2 linked regions of the Homo sapiens genome follow. The main gene of each other region encodes a partner of the protein of the gene in region 2 in a complex. Each region holds a gene or a part of one and is shown on either strand. Other genes may lie near its edges.

The links. The genes of interacting proteins can lie anywhere in the genome.
Region 1: MED23 (region 2) and MED25 share a complex: the UniProt entries of both Homo sapiens proteins name them as parts of the mediator complex.

Annotation. Positions count from the first base shown.
Region 1 is NC_000019.10:49,821,271-49,828,296, reverse strand, and holds part of MED25 (mediator of RNA polymerase II transcription subunit 25), read right to left. Parts: intron 1-7,026. UniProt on the Homo sapiens protein: Component of the Mediator complex, a coactivator involved in the regulated transcription of nearly all RNA polymerase II-dependent genes.
Region 2 is NC_000006.12:131,625,239-131,632,733, reverse strand, and holds the start of MED23 (mediator of RNA polymerase II transcription subunit 23), read left to right. Parts: upstream 1-4,491; 5' UTR 4,492-4,684; coding exon 4,685-4,723; intron 4,724-5,061; coding exon 5,062-5,093; intron 5,094-5,250; coding exon 5,251-5,338; intron 5,339-7,495. UniProt on the Homo sapiens protein: Required for transcriptional activation subsequent to the assembly of the pre-initiation complex. Component of the Mediator complex, a coactivator involved in the regulated transcription of nearly all RNA polymerase II-dependent genes.

The DNA.
Region 1 (7,026 bases), on a different chromosome or scaffold from region 2:
GGTGCTAGCACAGCACCAGTCCCAGACAGGACAGGGGACATTTGCTGTCTGTGTTTTTTTTTTTTTTTGAGATGGAGTCTCGCTCTGTCGCCCAGGCTGGAATGCAGTGGCATGATCTCAGTTCACTGCAAGCTCCGCTTCCTGGGTTCATGCCATTCTCCTGCCTCAGTCTCCCGAGTAGCTGGGACTACAGGTGCCTGCCACCACACCTGGCTAATTTTTTGTATTTTTAGTAGAGACGGGATTTCACCATGTTAGCCAGGATGGTCTCCATCTCCTGACCTCATGATCCACTTGCCTCAGCCTCCCAAAGTGCTGGGATTGCAGGAGTGAGCCACCACACCCGGCCGACATTTGTTGTCTTTAATCATGAGGACTGGGAGGGAATGGGAAAGGGCTGGGGACCCCAAGCCTAGGATCCTGTGCTGACTCCAACCCTGGAGTGACTGACTCCATGCCCAGCCTCCTGCTGTCCCCTCCCCTCTCTGGGCTGTCTGCTCCAAATCAGTCCTGGCCCCACTTCACCTTCCCAGCCAGAGACGGGGGCCTCCTCTGTCCTCCTAGTCTTATGGGTTCAAGTGTGCCCCCTTCAAAAAGACAGGTTGAGGTCCTAAGCCCCAGTACCTCAGAAGGTGACCTAATTTGGAAAGATCTTTACACAGGTAATCGAGTTAAATTGCGGGCCCTAATCCACTATGGCTGGTGTCTGTGAAAAGGAGAAACGTGGACACGGACACACACACAGAGGGAAGACACAAGGACACAGAGAGACACAGGGAGAGGCCATGTGAGGACGGGTGATGCAGCCTCAGCAGGCACCAGGAAAGGCAGAAGGGCCCTTCCCCTGTAAGATTTCAGAGACAGCCTGGCCCTACCACCTGGATTTTGGACTTCCAGCCTCCAGAACCCTGAGACATCAATTTCCATTCTTCTGGCCAGTTTCTCATACTTTGCTACGGCAGCCTGGGAAACTAACACACACAGACTCTCGTTTCTCCTCCGCCTGATCTGCAGTCGCGTCGCAGCATCCGTCCCACATGGGTTGTGGCCCGGGGATGGCCTCTCCTCAAGGGCAGCTGTGGTTGCCACCATTATTCCGGTCACGTGGTCGTGAGAGGCTGACCTTTGCTGCAGGGGACGTGTGTGGAGACCGAGCACCCCTCTGAGGGTCTTGAGGGCCCTGTCCCCCTGAAGTGTGGTCTCTGATCCTACCTCTCCCACAGGCGGGGATGGGGTCTGAGTCCTCTCTTACCCCCAGGCTTGCCCACCACAGCGGGGCACATGTGAGGCCTCAGGAAATGTAGGCTAAGTGAATGAACGTCTACAGGCCCAACCGTGTCCATCAAGACTGGAACCAACCCAGGCCCTCGGCCCGGCATCGGCCCAGCATCCGAGGCCTCCGAGTCCTGCACCCCGTCCATCTCTCCTGCTCCATGCCCGCACCTATAGGTCCTCTCAACTGACAAAGCCCAGACATCCAGGTCTCTGCATGTGCTGGAACACACCCATTCCGGCCCGGATGGAATCCAGCTAAACTACGACACCCATCCTGGTGTGCCCTCCTATAGGAAGCCTTCCCTACATGCCACCTAATTTTACGGCCTGCCCTTAGTCACATCATAGATCACCCGATACTGCAGCTGTCAAGCTTCTCTCCGCACCCTGTGCAGCCCTCCAAGAGAGACACCAAGGCGTCTGACCCTAGGTCACACAAGGCCTAGGAACCATCTGCTGAGTACTCAGTGCACTGGTGGCCTGGCAGGGCCATGCAGCGGGGCTCTCCGCTTCCTGCCTGAGTTCTCGCACTGATTTCCTTCCAGTCCCACTCGGCCCGGCCAGTGAGCACACTGAGCCCCTGAGCCTTCTTCCTGCTCTCAGGGCACTCGGGCGCTGCTCCCAACCCACCACACACTTCCCAGCCCTCCTCTTCCTAGCCATCAAAACAGCTTTTGTTTTTGAGACGGAGTCTCGCTCTGTCTCCCAGGCTGGAGGGCAGAGGCACATCTCCGCTCACTGCAAGCTCCGCCTCCCGGATTCACGCCATTCTCCTGCCTCAGCCTCCCTCGTAGCTGGGACCACAGGTGCCCGCCACCACGCCCGGCTAATTTTTTTAATTTTTAAGTAGAGACGGGGTTTCACGGTGTTATCCGGGATGGTCTCGAACTCCTGACCTTATGATCCACCCGCCTCGGCCTCCCAAAGTGCTGGGATTACAGGCGTGAGCCACTGTGCCCGGCATCAAGACAGCTTTGCACGCAGAAACTTCAACTGTGTGCAAAGAGTTGGGGTGAACCAACTCTGGACCCAGCTGTTCTGCTACAGGTGAAATTAAGCCAATATTTTCCTGGGCCTTTCTGGGACTCGAGCCAAAACCACCCTGGCTGGGGATGGGGGGATGGGGGAATGGGGAGCTAGTGCTTCATGCATATGGGGTGTCCTCTTTGGGGTGATAAATTTTTTTTTTTGAGATGGAGTTTCGCTCTTGTTGCCCAGGCTGGAGTGCAATGGCACGATCTCAGCTCACCACTACCTTCGACTTCTGGGTTCAAGTGATTCTCCTGCCTCAGCCTCCCGAGTAGCTGGGATTACAGGCATGCGGCACCACGCCCAGCTAATTTTGTATTTTTAGTAGAGACAGGGTTTCTCCATGTTGGTCGGGCTGGTCTCGAACTCCCGACCTCAGGTGATCCGCCTCCTCACCCTCCCAAAGTGCTGGAATTACAGGCATGACCCTGTAAAACAGTTGGAAGTGACTGGGTGCAATGGCTTATGCCTGTAATCCCAGCACTTTGGGAGGCCGAGGTGGGCGGATCACTTGAGGTCAGGAGTTCAAGACCAACCTGGCCAAAGTGAAACCCTATCTCTACTAAAAATACAAAAACCAGCCAGACATGGTGGTGGGTACGTGTAATCCCAGCTACTCGGGAGGCTGAGGCAGGAGAATCACTTGAACCTCGGGGGCAGAGGTTGTAGTGAGCTGAGATCATGCCACTGCACTCCAGCCTGGGAGAGAGAGAGAGACTCCATCTCAAACAAAACAAAACAAAACAAAACCCTTATGAGGAAAAGTGTGATAAACTAACCAGTTTGAGATGCTAAAACTTGCGTTTCTCTTATTGAACACTAAGTACAAGTCATGTGCTACAAGCTCAAAGGGCGACATGTAATAAACATTTTGTCAAAGAAATGTGGAAAACTTGAACAGAAGAAGCACTATGGCTGGCTGCAAAATATGGCTAAAATATCAAGTTTATGATAAATTCCAAATAAACCCCTTGATATGGCAGACACAAAATAAAAATAAAAGCCCCCTAGGTGACACAAGTGGGCTCTGACTTGGTGTTCCCAAGTCCTCTAACTTACTCCCATTTGTTCTACCCAGTATCATTCCCCGGGGTCTCTGCTGCCCGCTTTCATCGGCTAACAGGTGCCTGGAGCCCCAGGAGGTCAAAATGAGTGAATGTTAACAGCATCCGGCCATGACCAAGGGCTCCCTACACACGGCCTGTCACCCAGGCAAACTAGTTCCATGAGGGCCAGGACCTTGCCTATCTCATGCCCACTAACTCCTTGGTGCCCAGGACGATTTGTTCCACAAACATTTGTTGAATTAATGAGTGAACATATGAATGAACAACTGAGTTGTCATAATGTTATGGGAAACACACTGGGTCTATTTTCCTTCCACCTCTTTTTTTTTTTTTTTTTTCCCGAGACAGGGTCTCGCTCTTTCACCCAGGCTGGAGTGCGGTGGCACAATCTCGGCTCACTGCAACCTCTGCCTCCCAGTCTCAGTTGATCCTCCTACCTCAGCCTCCTGAGTAGCTGGGACTACAGGTGTGCACCACCATGCCTGGTTAATTTTTTCTATTTATTTGTTGTTTTTGTATTACATACTAATTCATTTATTCAGCCAGTCTCCTGAAGCCCCGTGGGTGCCAAGCCCCAGCTGGAAGCAAATGGCAGAAGCACCCAGGGACCTGGACATTCACAGTCCAGAGGTGTGGGGCTGTGACAGGTCATGGAGGCAGAGGAGGAAGCATCTGGCTGCAAGAATCGGGAAGGTTTCCCAGGGTATAAGACACCTGAGCTGGGTCTGGAAGGCTATGCAGTGTCTTCCAGGGTGGTTAGTATTAAATGCATTCTGGACATTCATTCTACAGAATTTACCCGAGGCCTCCTGTGTACCAGGCCCTGTGCTGGCTGCCAGGCACTTGAGGAGCATCAGACTTGGACCTGGGCCTCAAGAAGTCTCCATTTAACATCACTCAAGACTGTCTTACCGGTCTCTCCCAGTGGTCTCAAATGGAATACATTTTGCGCCCCCTTCCCAGAGGATATTTTATAATGCCTGGAGACATTTTTGGTTGTCACACCTTTGGGAGGGGGCTACCGGCATCTAGTGAGTAGAGGCCAAGGATGATGTTAAACATCCTACAATACCCAGGACGGCCCCCACTACAAGGAATGACTGTGTCCACAGTGTCACTAGGGCCAAGGATGAGAAACCCTGCTCTGTGTTACCTACGAATTCCAGCTACCGCGAAGGGGAAGCTTCTGTGTCACCTTTTCACTATATGTCCTGCACCCAGCACTTGCACGCACATACTGGAACAAAGCAGATACTCAACAAACACCTGCTGCAGAAGCATACAGAGGTAACGGCCGCTACGAACAGGTGTTGTTTAATGAACCTTGACTGCAGACCAGGCCCTAAGCGACACACAGCAAGCAACTTAGCTCCTGTGATCTTCTAACAACACGGAGATACACGCGACCATTATCCATTTGCAAACCAGGAGAGTGAGGCACAAAATCCTAGGAAACACTTACACGGCACTTAATACATGCCAGGCACTGTATTAAACATCATCAACTAACTTAATTCTCCAAACATCGCTGTGAGGTTGCGGTACCCAGCCCCCAATACAGCACCCAGCAATCCAGCCTCTTGCTATTTACACACTGGGTAGTCTCCTCCTACACTGAACGGGATAGGCTTATACTGCACACCAAATGCAGTATGGCAGAAGTGGACTTGGCACCGCAGCTCAGGCCTGTGATCTCAGCACTCCAGCACTTAGGGAGGTCAAGGCAGGAGGATCGCTTGAGGCCAGGAGTTCAAGACCAGTCTGAGCAACACAGCAAGACCTCATCTCTACAAGAATTAAAATAAAGAAATCAGCCATGCATGGTGGTGCCCACCTGCAGTCCTAGGTACTCAGGAGGCTGAGGTGGGAGGATCACTTGAGCCCGAGAGGTCGAGGCTGCAGCAAGCTATGATCCCACCACTGCACTCCAATCTGGGCAACAGAGCAAGACCCTGTCTCAGGTTAAAAAACAGAATGTAGGCCAGGCGCGGTGGCTCACGCCTGTAATCCCAGCACTTTGGGAGGCCGAGGCGGGTGGATCACAAGGTCAGGAGACCGAGACCATCCCGGCTAACACAGTGAAACCCTGTCTCTACTAAAAATACAAAAAATTAGCTGGGTGTGGTGGCGGGCACCTGTAGTCCCAGCTACTCAGGAGGCTGAGGCAGGAGAATGGCGTGAACTCGGGAGGCGGAGCTTGCAGTGAGCTGAGATCGCACCACTGCACTTCAGCCTGGACAACAGAGCGAGACTCTGTCTCAAAAAAAAAAAAAAAAAAAAAAAAAGAATGTAACAGAAATAATGACATGACGTGTAACTTCCAAGACTTGATTACAAAGAGCCTAGTGGGGCCTCTGGGTGCAGCATCTCATGCCTCTAATCCCAGCACTTAGGGACACTGAAGTGGAGGATCACTTGAGACCAGGAGTTCAAAACCAGCCTGGGCAACATTGCAGGACCTTGTCTCCACAAAAAAAACAATTTTTTTTTGAGACAGGGTCTCAGTCAGTCAGTCACCCAAGCTGGAGCGCAGTGGTGCGATCTCTCCACCTCCTGGCTTGAAGTGATTCTCCTGCCTCAGCCTCCTGAGTAGCTAGGATTACAAGGCACATGCCACCACACCTGATTAATTTTTGTATGGTTTTTTTTTTTTTTTTTTTTTTGAGACAGAGTCTTGCTCTGTTGCCCAGGCTGGAGTGCAGTGGTGCAATCTTGGCTCACTGCAAACTCCGCCTCCTGGGTTCACGCCATTCTCCTGCCTCAGCCTCCCGAGTAGCTGGGACTGCAGGTGCCTGCCACCGCGCCCGGTTAAATTTTTGTATTTTTAGTAGAGACGGGGTTTCACCGTGTTAGCCAGGATGGTCTCCATCTCCTGACCTCATCATCCACCCGCCTCAGCCTCCCAAAGTGCTGGGATTACAGGCGTGAGCCACCACGCCTGCCCAATTTTTGTATTTTTTGTAGAGACGGGGTTTCACCATGTTGGCCAGGCTGGTCTCGAACTCCTGACCTCAGGTGATTCGCCCGCCTTGGCCTCCCAAAGTGCTGGGATTACAGGGATGAGCCACCGTGCCCCGCCACTACAAAATTTTTTTTTTTTTTTTTTTTTGAGACAGAATTTCACTCTTGTTGCCCAGGCTGGAGTGCAATGGTGTGATCTCGGCTCACTGCAACCTCCACCTCCCAGGTTCAAGCAATTCTCCTGCCTCAGCCTCCCAAGAGCTGGGATTACAGGCATGCGCCACCATGCCCAGCTAAGGCCTGTAATTTCAGCACTCCAGCACTTAGGGAGGTCAAGGCAGGATGATTGCTTGTATTTTTAGTAGAGGCAGGGTTTCACCATGTTGGACAGGCTGGTCTCGAACTCCTGACCTCAGGTGATCCACCTGCCCCAGCCTCCCAAAGTGCTGGGATTACAGGCGTGAGCCACCACGCCCGACCTACAAAAATATTTTTAAGAAATCAGCCAGGTGTGCTGGCATTTGGCTACCGTCCCTGCTACTCCAGCTACTCGGGAAGCTGAGATGGGAGGATCGCTTGAGCTTGAGCCCAGGAGGTCGAGGCTGCAGTGAGCCGTGACTGAGCCACTGCACTCCAGCCTGCGTGACAGAGTGAGACCCTTCCTCAAAAACAAGAGAGGCCTGGGGCTTCCTCT
Region 2 (7,495 bases):
TCACTAAATTTTGGATATGATAATAGGGACACATCCTAGTCCTTCAGGTCCTAAGATGAATAAACCTCAAGGAATCTACCTATGTATAATACAAGTAGGTATAGTGAAGATGGTTGGCATTGCCAAGTTGCTAGCCATATTTTTGGCTATAACAATTTCTCTAACTGAACTCTAAACCCCAACCTCTTTTGAGTCTTTCAAGTTCTAGAAACTTATTCCTGGCTGGATGCAGTGGCTCACACCTGTAATCCCAGCACTTTGGGAGGCTGAGGCAGGAGGATCACTTATGTCAGTTTAAGACCCACCAGGGCAACATAGTGAGACCCTGTCTCTACAAAAAATGAAAAATAAAAAATTATCCAGGAGTTATGGTGCATGCCTGTAGTCCTAGCTACTCGGGAGGCTGAGGTGGGAGAATATGGGGAGGATTGCTTGAGCCCAGGAGTTTGGGGCTGTAGTGAGCTATGATGGCACCACTGCATTCCAGCATGAGCAGCAGAGTAAGACCATCATCTCAAAAAAGAAAGAAAAAAAGAAAGAAAGAAACTTAACAGTTCACCTGATCAATAGACACAAGCCAAAACCACACCTTCCATGCAAGTTAGACTTTGGAATAGACTGCCTGTGTCACTTAAATCTGAACCTACACTTTCTAAGTTAACTGGACCTTGAAAGTTTGCCTATTCTTTTCTTCTTTAACTTTAGAACAATCTGTACCTTCTCTTCTTTTCTTCTTCAACTTCAGAACAACCTGTACCTTCTTGGTTCTGAAACTTTACTCTGAACATTAAAATGTTCAGAGTAATTTGTAAGTAAGTTAATGGCTTAGAACGCTTGCATTCTGAGAGGCAGCTACCATTACATCACCCATCAATGTAAACCGTAAACATTCCTCATGTTACAGAAGGTCTCAGTGTCCACAGAATTCTGGCAACAAATGGGTTGTTGTTGTCTCAGAAAAGCCCTAGGGGCCTGCCAACATCAACTTCTTTGTCTCAGGAACCTGCCCTTCCTGGTTCCAGTGCTAGATCTTGGGTGATAGGTGGACAAGCTAGACTGGGAGAGCCCAGAGAAACTAATCGCACTGAGGAGGGTGGTAGAGGTGAGGCGGATGCTAGGCTCAGGTCCAACAGCAAAAGGAAGAAGGAGTCCACAAAGGAAGGGAGACCTCACATAATAACATAATGCCAGAGATAGATGGGCAGGTGACTAACTTCAGGGAGGGCCAGTCATGAGGAAAAAGCAGAAAAACCTACAAGGAGATTGACAAGCACACAAAGCAATCAGAAAGCTAACCAGGTAGGCAGTTGGTATAGGAAGGACAGAAGCTAATCCTCAGCAAGTGGAGATCCAACACTGAAGCTGAATTGAGAACTGGCTGTCTTGGTGAGACTGATGTCAGCAGTGCCAAACCAGGTCTGAGAGGCAATGGTACACACCAGGAGACAAAGCAGACACCCAGCATGGAATAGAGAGCCCAGCTCTAGTCCTCCAAACAATGACTATGGCAAAGTAGAATCAATGGTCACAGTTTGATACCGCTGTTTGCCAGTACCTATGTGTGTGAAAAGATATTTTCTGACTAAATAAGTAAAAATCTCATTACTGATCAGCACAATGAACATCTATAATCAATTTGGAGATGAGAAACCTGATGTGATGACTCCTGTGGTGTAGCAATTGTTTTCTACTGAACGATCAGCATTCCTAAGGTTGTCTCTGGTTCATGGAAGACTGTTTCTCTTACTTTGTCTCAAGTACAGAAATATTCCCTAGTAGTGTTAGATTTCTAGGAGCCCTTTCTTGTTCATTTTGAAACTCAGAAATCTTTGGATTTCCAAACATTTTCCAGGTTTTCATAGGCTCTTCTCATTTTTAGTGTACTCATGAGGGCCTCATTTATGACTCAAATTCTAGAGATGTCTCCAGAAGAGACATTATAAAACAACCATGCTGCCTGGGCTCTCCGAGGTAGAGCTCAGTGTCACAGTGCTCCCACGGTGCCCATCCATGAAGCAGAAGGTACAGGCCACGTACTGTTTACATCTCTGAAACCTGGCATGAACCAAGTTATTTCCCCAAACCTTTAAACTCCTCTCTGCCGTGTCAACTCCGTGGTGGCAGGAACTAGGTCAGTTTGAGCTTACAGTCTTGTTCTAGTGTCTAGCACAGTGGCCAACACCTAGAAGACATTCAATGAACACTTGCTGAATAAATTTTGTAACGGTTTCAGAAATAACATTAGAAGTATAAGCTACCACATACATAAATGTCCAGTGAACCCAACTGTTATAAATTATAATAACTTTACTAGGTATAACTTTGTAGGTGTTCCAAATCTTTCTCTACATCCAGCATTCCAGAAATAGCTATTACCTCAGAGGAAGTCTTGTCCATAAAATAAAGGCACTTCAGATGTTTTTATTCTACCCAAAGTAATGAATAATGACTGAGCACCACCAAGTACCAGACTTTATGCCAGGTGTTAGGAAATGCAGGCATGTTTAATTTCTGTATCTACTCTAAAGAGCTTTAGTCTAGTTGAAGAAGTAGACATTTTAAACCATAATATAGTGTAATCTGTGCAATACTAGTAGTGCTAATAAAGTGCCAGGAGGAAAGAGGAAGAAATACAAATTTTTCTACAGAAAGGGATTTAGAAAGATATCTACGTGAGTTTGCTCAGACTGCTGTGAATAGCATACTATAAACTGGGGTGATTCGAGTCTCAGCAAACTGAACGCTGAGAACTCAGGCTTCTTGTTCCTTTTGGCTGCAAGAAGGTTGGCAGCCAGTCAGAACTTTACCCACTTGTAAGAGATCAGGCTTCTTGTTCCTTTTGGCTGCAAGAAGGTTGGCAGCCAGTCAGAACTTTACCCACTTGTAAGAGATTAGATGTATCTTCCTTGGTGATTCAGACCAGCCTAAGGGGAAAGACCTGATGATACCAACTTTGGGGATTCTCCAAGAAACAATGTCCCCAGAACACACTATAAAGATGCTCAAAGTTGATAAGCCCTGCCCAGCTGCTCAGAGTTTCCAGTTGGCTCTTTAGTCCCCCACTCTAAATCCTGATAGGACAAGGATGGAACAAGAAGCCTGAATTCTCAGCTTTCAGTTTGCTCAGACTCAAATTACCCCCCAGTTTATAGTATGCTGTTCACAGCAATCTAAGCAAACTCCCCTAGGTATCTTTCTAAATTCCTTTCTGTAGAAAAATTTGTATTTCCTCCTTTTCTCCCTGGCACTTTATTAGCATCACTAGTATTGCACATATCACACTCTATTATGGTTTAAAATGTCTATGTCTTCAACTAAGCTAAAGCTCTTTAGAGTAGATACATGGGCCCTAACCTGACTGATGTCCTTCTAGGAAGAGAAAATTACGACACAGACATGTACAAAGGGAAGACCATGTGAAGACACAAGGAGAAGAAGGTCATCTACAAGCCAAGGACAGAGGCCTCTATAGAAACTAACCCTATCAACCTCAACCTCAGACTTCCAGCCTCCAGAATTACAAGAAAAGAAATTTCTGTTGTTTAAGCCACCCAGTCTGTGGTATTTTGTTATGGCAACCCTAGCAAACAATACCCTAAGCCTAACTTTTCAAGTTTTTCTCCAGCAGGAAATCTGAATTATTTCTTTTCAGCTTTTAGTAGCTATTGTGTGGACAACATGGTTGCATGTGCATATTAAAGTTGTTAGAAAACTAAATTTATGCCAGGTCAGACACTTGTATAACAAAACCATGAATGGGGAGTCATCAGCTCATCACTTAGCAGCTACAAAGGAGTAGTTCATGCTTAGCAGTTTGTGGCATTTCACAACCGTCAAAGAAGTGAAAGGCCTTTGGATGTCTATGACTCTCATCAACAATTTTCTTTATGAGGCAAAGAAAGCTGATCATTCAAGACATAACAGATGTTTTAGGGGTTGGTGATGATGGTGGCATATGAAGAAAAACACATACTCTCAACAATATAATAGCAAATAGAATCTAGCAATATATTAAAAAGGATAATATATTATGACCAAGTAGCATTTATACCATAGAAGCAAAATTGGTTTGGCATTCAAAAGTCAATCAATTACATTTGCACTGAGGTTATCATAGCTGAGAAGACACCGTCTCTGTGGCTTCAGCTCCTGGCTGCAGGCCGCTGATGGAGGTCCAGAAGGTCAGCTGCTCACAGACATCAACTTGGTGTCGGCTGCGGCTCCAGCATTTTCCGCAGGCTGCAGCTTCTGGGTTCCAAACTTTTCATTTCTCAGTCTGCAAGCGGGTTAGCCCCGAACAGGAAGCAACTCCTTCTCCAGCCGGGAGGTGGCGGCCTGCGGTCGACGATGCCTCCGGGGTCCTTGGGCTCAAGGTTCCGTTTGGGGGCGCTCTCGTCCGGCTTGCGGGCCGCCCTTCTCCACAGACGGAACCTTCTGGTGGCGCCGCTGGTTTCTGCGGGGTTTGCAAACGGCGCGTACCGGGCCCTTCCCGTCTTCCGTACAGGTTCCTGCTGTTGGCTGGGCTCGGGAGGGAACGCTCCAGGTAAAGCGCTGGGGGAGGAAGCGACGCCGAGGAGCTACGGTTTCCTCCAGAGGTCTCCGCCCCTCTGCCCCTATATTCCCAGAGCTCGAGTCTGATCCGGGCCTTGCCGGGCACCCTGGAAAGGCGGGGGTGATAGTACAGATGGAGACGCAACTGCAGAGCATTTTCGAAGAGGTGGTGGTGAGTGCAGCTGCCGGCCATCCAGGACTACGGCTTGGGGACGGGGAGACGCGGGGGCAGCCGACCAAGGAAACTGGCCTGGGCAACCTCCTCTCACGCCTCCCTTTTTATTCCCTTGTTTTGACACCGAGGTTGTATGCGGGGAAGTTTAGTGATTCTCAAACTGCTGTCAAGTTCATTGTATCCTTTGAAATCGATACAGTGACAGGCCAGACAGGTATTGATAGTTTCAGAGCTGATTAAGGTGACTTGCCCTGTGTTACATTGTAATACTTGGCTAAGGGAGGCGCCTTTTTAAAATTAACATTGTTTACATTTTGTTTTTTTTTTTTTTACAGAAAACGGAAGTTATAGAAGAGGCTTTTCCTGGGTGAGTGTATGCGTGGCAGAGTTTTGTGTTTTTATGTGATTGTGTCTGTCAGATTTTACTTAGTTTCGTGTTGGAAGGTTATAAGATCCACTATTCTGATTGTGTGTAATTACCTTTTTAAAACGAATGACAAATAATGTAATTTTTATTTTTTTAGCATGTTTATGGATACTCCTGAAGATGAGAAAACAAAACTAATTAGCTGTTTGGGGGCCTTCAGACAGTTTTGGGGTGGTCTTTCTCAGGTGAGCGCTTCATTTTTAATACATTCAGCTGATGATTTTTGGCCTCTTCTTTTTTTTTTTTTTTTTCTTTTAACATTTACTTTCATGCTGCTCTTAAGATCTTCCTGAGAAGGGAGAAATAAAATTGTTATCATTTTTTATTCTGGCTTCCATTTGTTTTAATTTGTATATTTCAGTGGAAAACCTGTGTTGAGAAGTCAAGTTGATACTGCACAGTGTGAGATGTTTAAAAAAAAAAACCTCCCCTATGTTAGATTAATTGAGATCATTTTCATCCTATTCGGATTTATTTGGTACACTTGAAAACAGATATGTTAAGCTTTACTTGTCAAGGATACAAATTCCATTTTTCTGCTAAATAAAGGAATTGGCACAGCATTGATACAAAGATGCTACAATAGGAATACCAAGATTCTATAATAAGGATAGGAAAATATTATAGTAAAAATGAGGAGACAAACTGTAAAAGTAACAAAGAACAGCTACCAGAAAATGTATCCGTGAAAAAGACAAAAATGTGTCATCCTCGAAGAGCTCACATTGCAGTAGTGCCTTACCTTCTCATGGTACACTATAGGTAGGGAAATGAGAACTGTTTGCGTGTCAGCCACTGGTGATAAGATTTGCCACTCAGACATGGATCATATAATGCCAATACAGTCATGTTTTAACCTTTTTGTTTAGTTGTTTTCTAATAGGTAATACATTTATATGGTTCAAAATGCACAGGTATAAAAGGGTGGATCCAATAACTAGTCTCTTTCTCTTCTCTTACCTGTTATTTTTTCTGTCTGTAGCCAATATCCTCAGGTTATGTTTTCTTCTAGAAGTATTTTATGCATATAGAAACACTTTTATAGCATGATCATATACCATGTACACTGTTCATTAATTAGCACTTTTTTTCTCCTAATAATAATCTACAGGTAATTCCCTATCAGTCCAAGCGTTACTTGTTCCTTCCTTTCTTACTTTTTTTTTTAAATAGCAGCATAATATTCCATTGTATGGCTGTACCTTCCTCCTTTTAACCAATCTTCTACTGTCTTCTAAGTTTCTTCTTACTTTTTCTAATTTAACCAATGCTGTGATGAATAATATTATGCATGAAAAATAGGATAAATTCCTAGAAATAGTATTGCTGAGTCAAAAGCCTTATCAGTTTGTAATTTTTATAGAAATTATTAAATTTTCCATAAGGGTTATACTAGTTTATGCTTCCACCAGCAGTGTTTGAGATTATCTTTTTCTTTTCTTTTTTTTTTTTTTTTTTGGAGACAGAGTCTCACTCTGTCGCCCAGGCTAGAGTGCAGTGGCGTGATCTTGGCTCACTGCAACCTCTGCCTCTCGGGTTCACGCCGTTCTCCTGCCTCAGCCTCCCGAGTAGCTGGGACTACAGGCACCTGCTATCACGCCCGGCTCATTTTTTGTATTTTTAGTAGAGACGGGGTTTCATCGTGTTAGCCAGGTTGGTCTCGATCTCCCGACCTCATGATCTGCCCACCTCGGCCTCCCAAAGTGCTGGGATTACAGGCATGAGCCACCGCGCCCGGCTGAGAGTATCTTTTTCTTATAACCTCACAATAGAGTGTTAAGCTTTTTGATCTTTGCCAATCAAAAACATGAGAAATTTTATCTCAGTATAATTTTATTTTGCATTTCTCTCAGTGATGTTGAATATCTTTCCAAAATTTAAAAAAAAATTCATTAAACACTTTATGAATTATGATGTGGCCCTCTAATGGAGAGACCAGGAAGAAAATAGGTATTTCCAAATCATTGTTATATGTGCCACAATAGAAGTATGTATGAGAACAGTGGTTGTGGAGAGAAGCAGAACATTATAGGCTCTTTTTGGAGATAATCCTAGAAGACAAACTTTGATACGGGCACAACATTTTGACATCGTATTTAAAGTTTTGCCAGTCTAGAAATGTGACATGTCATTGGATTCATAATGGGCTCTTGTTTGGGATCTTAGGGATTGGATTCACACCTAATTCTCCTAAGCCTGATACATACTGATCCATAATGAATTTTACCCCCAGTGACAGTAATATTTATATATGCCATAAAGGGCACTGTTTACAATGCCTTACAACAATCTGTGTTAAGAGTTTTCTATTGACCGTTAATATGTTAACTAATTAATTACTA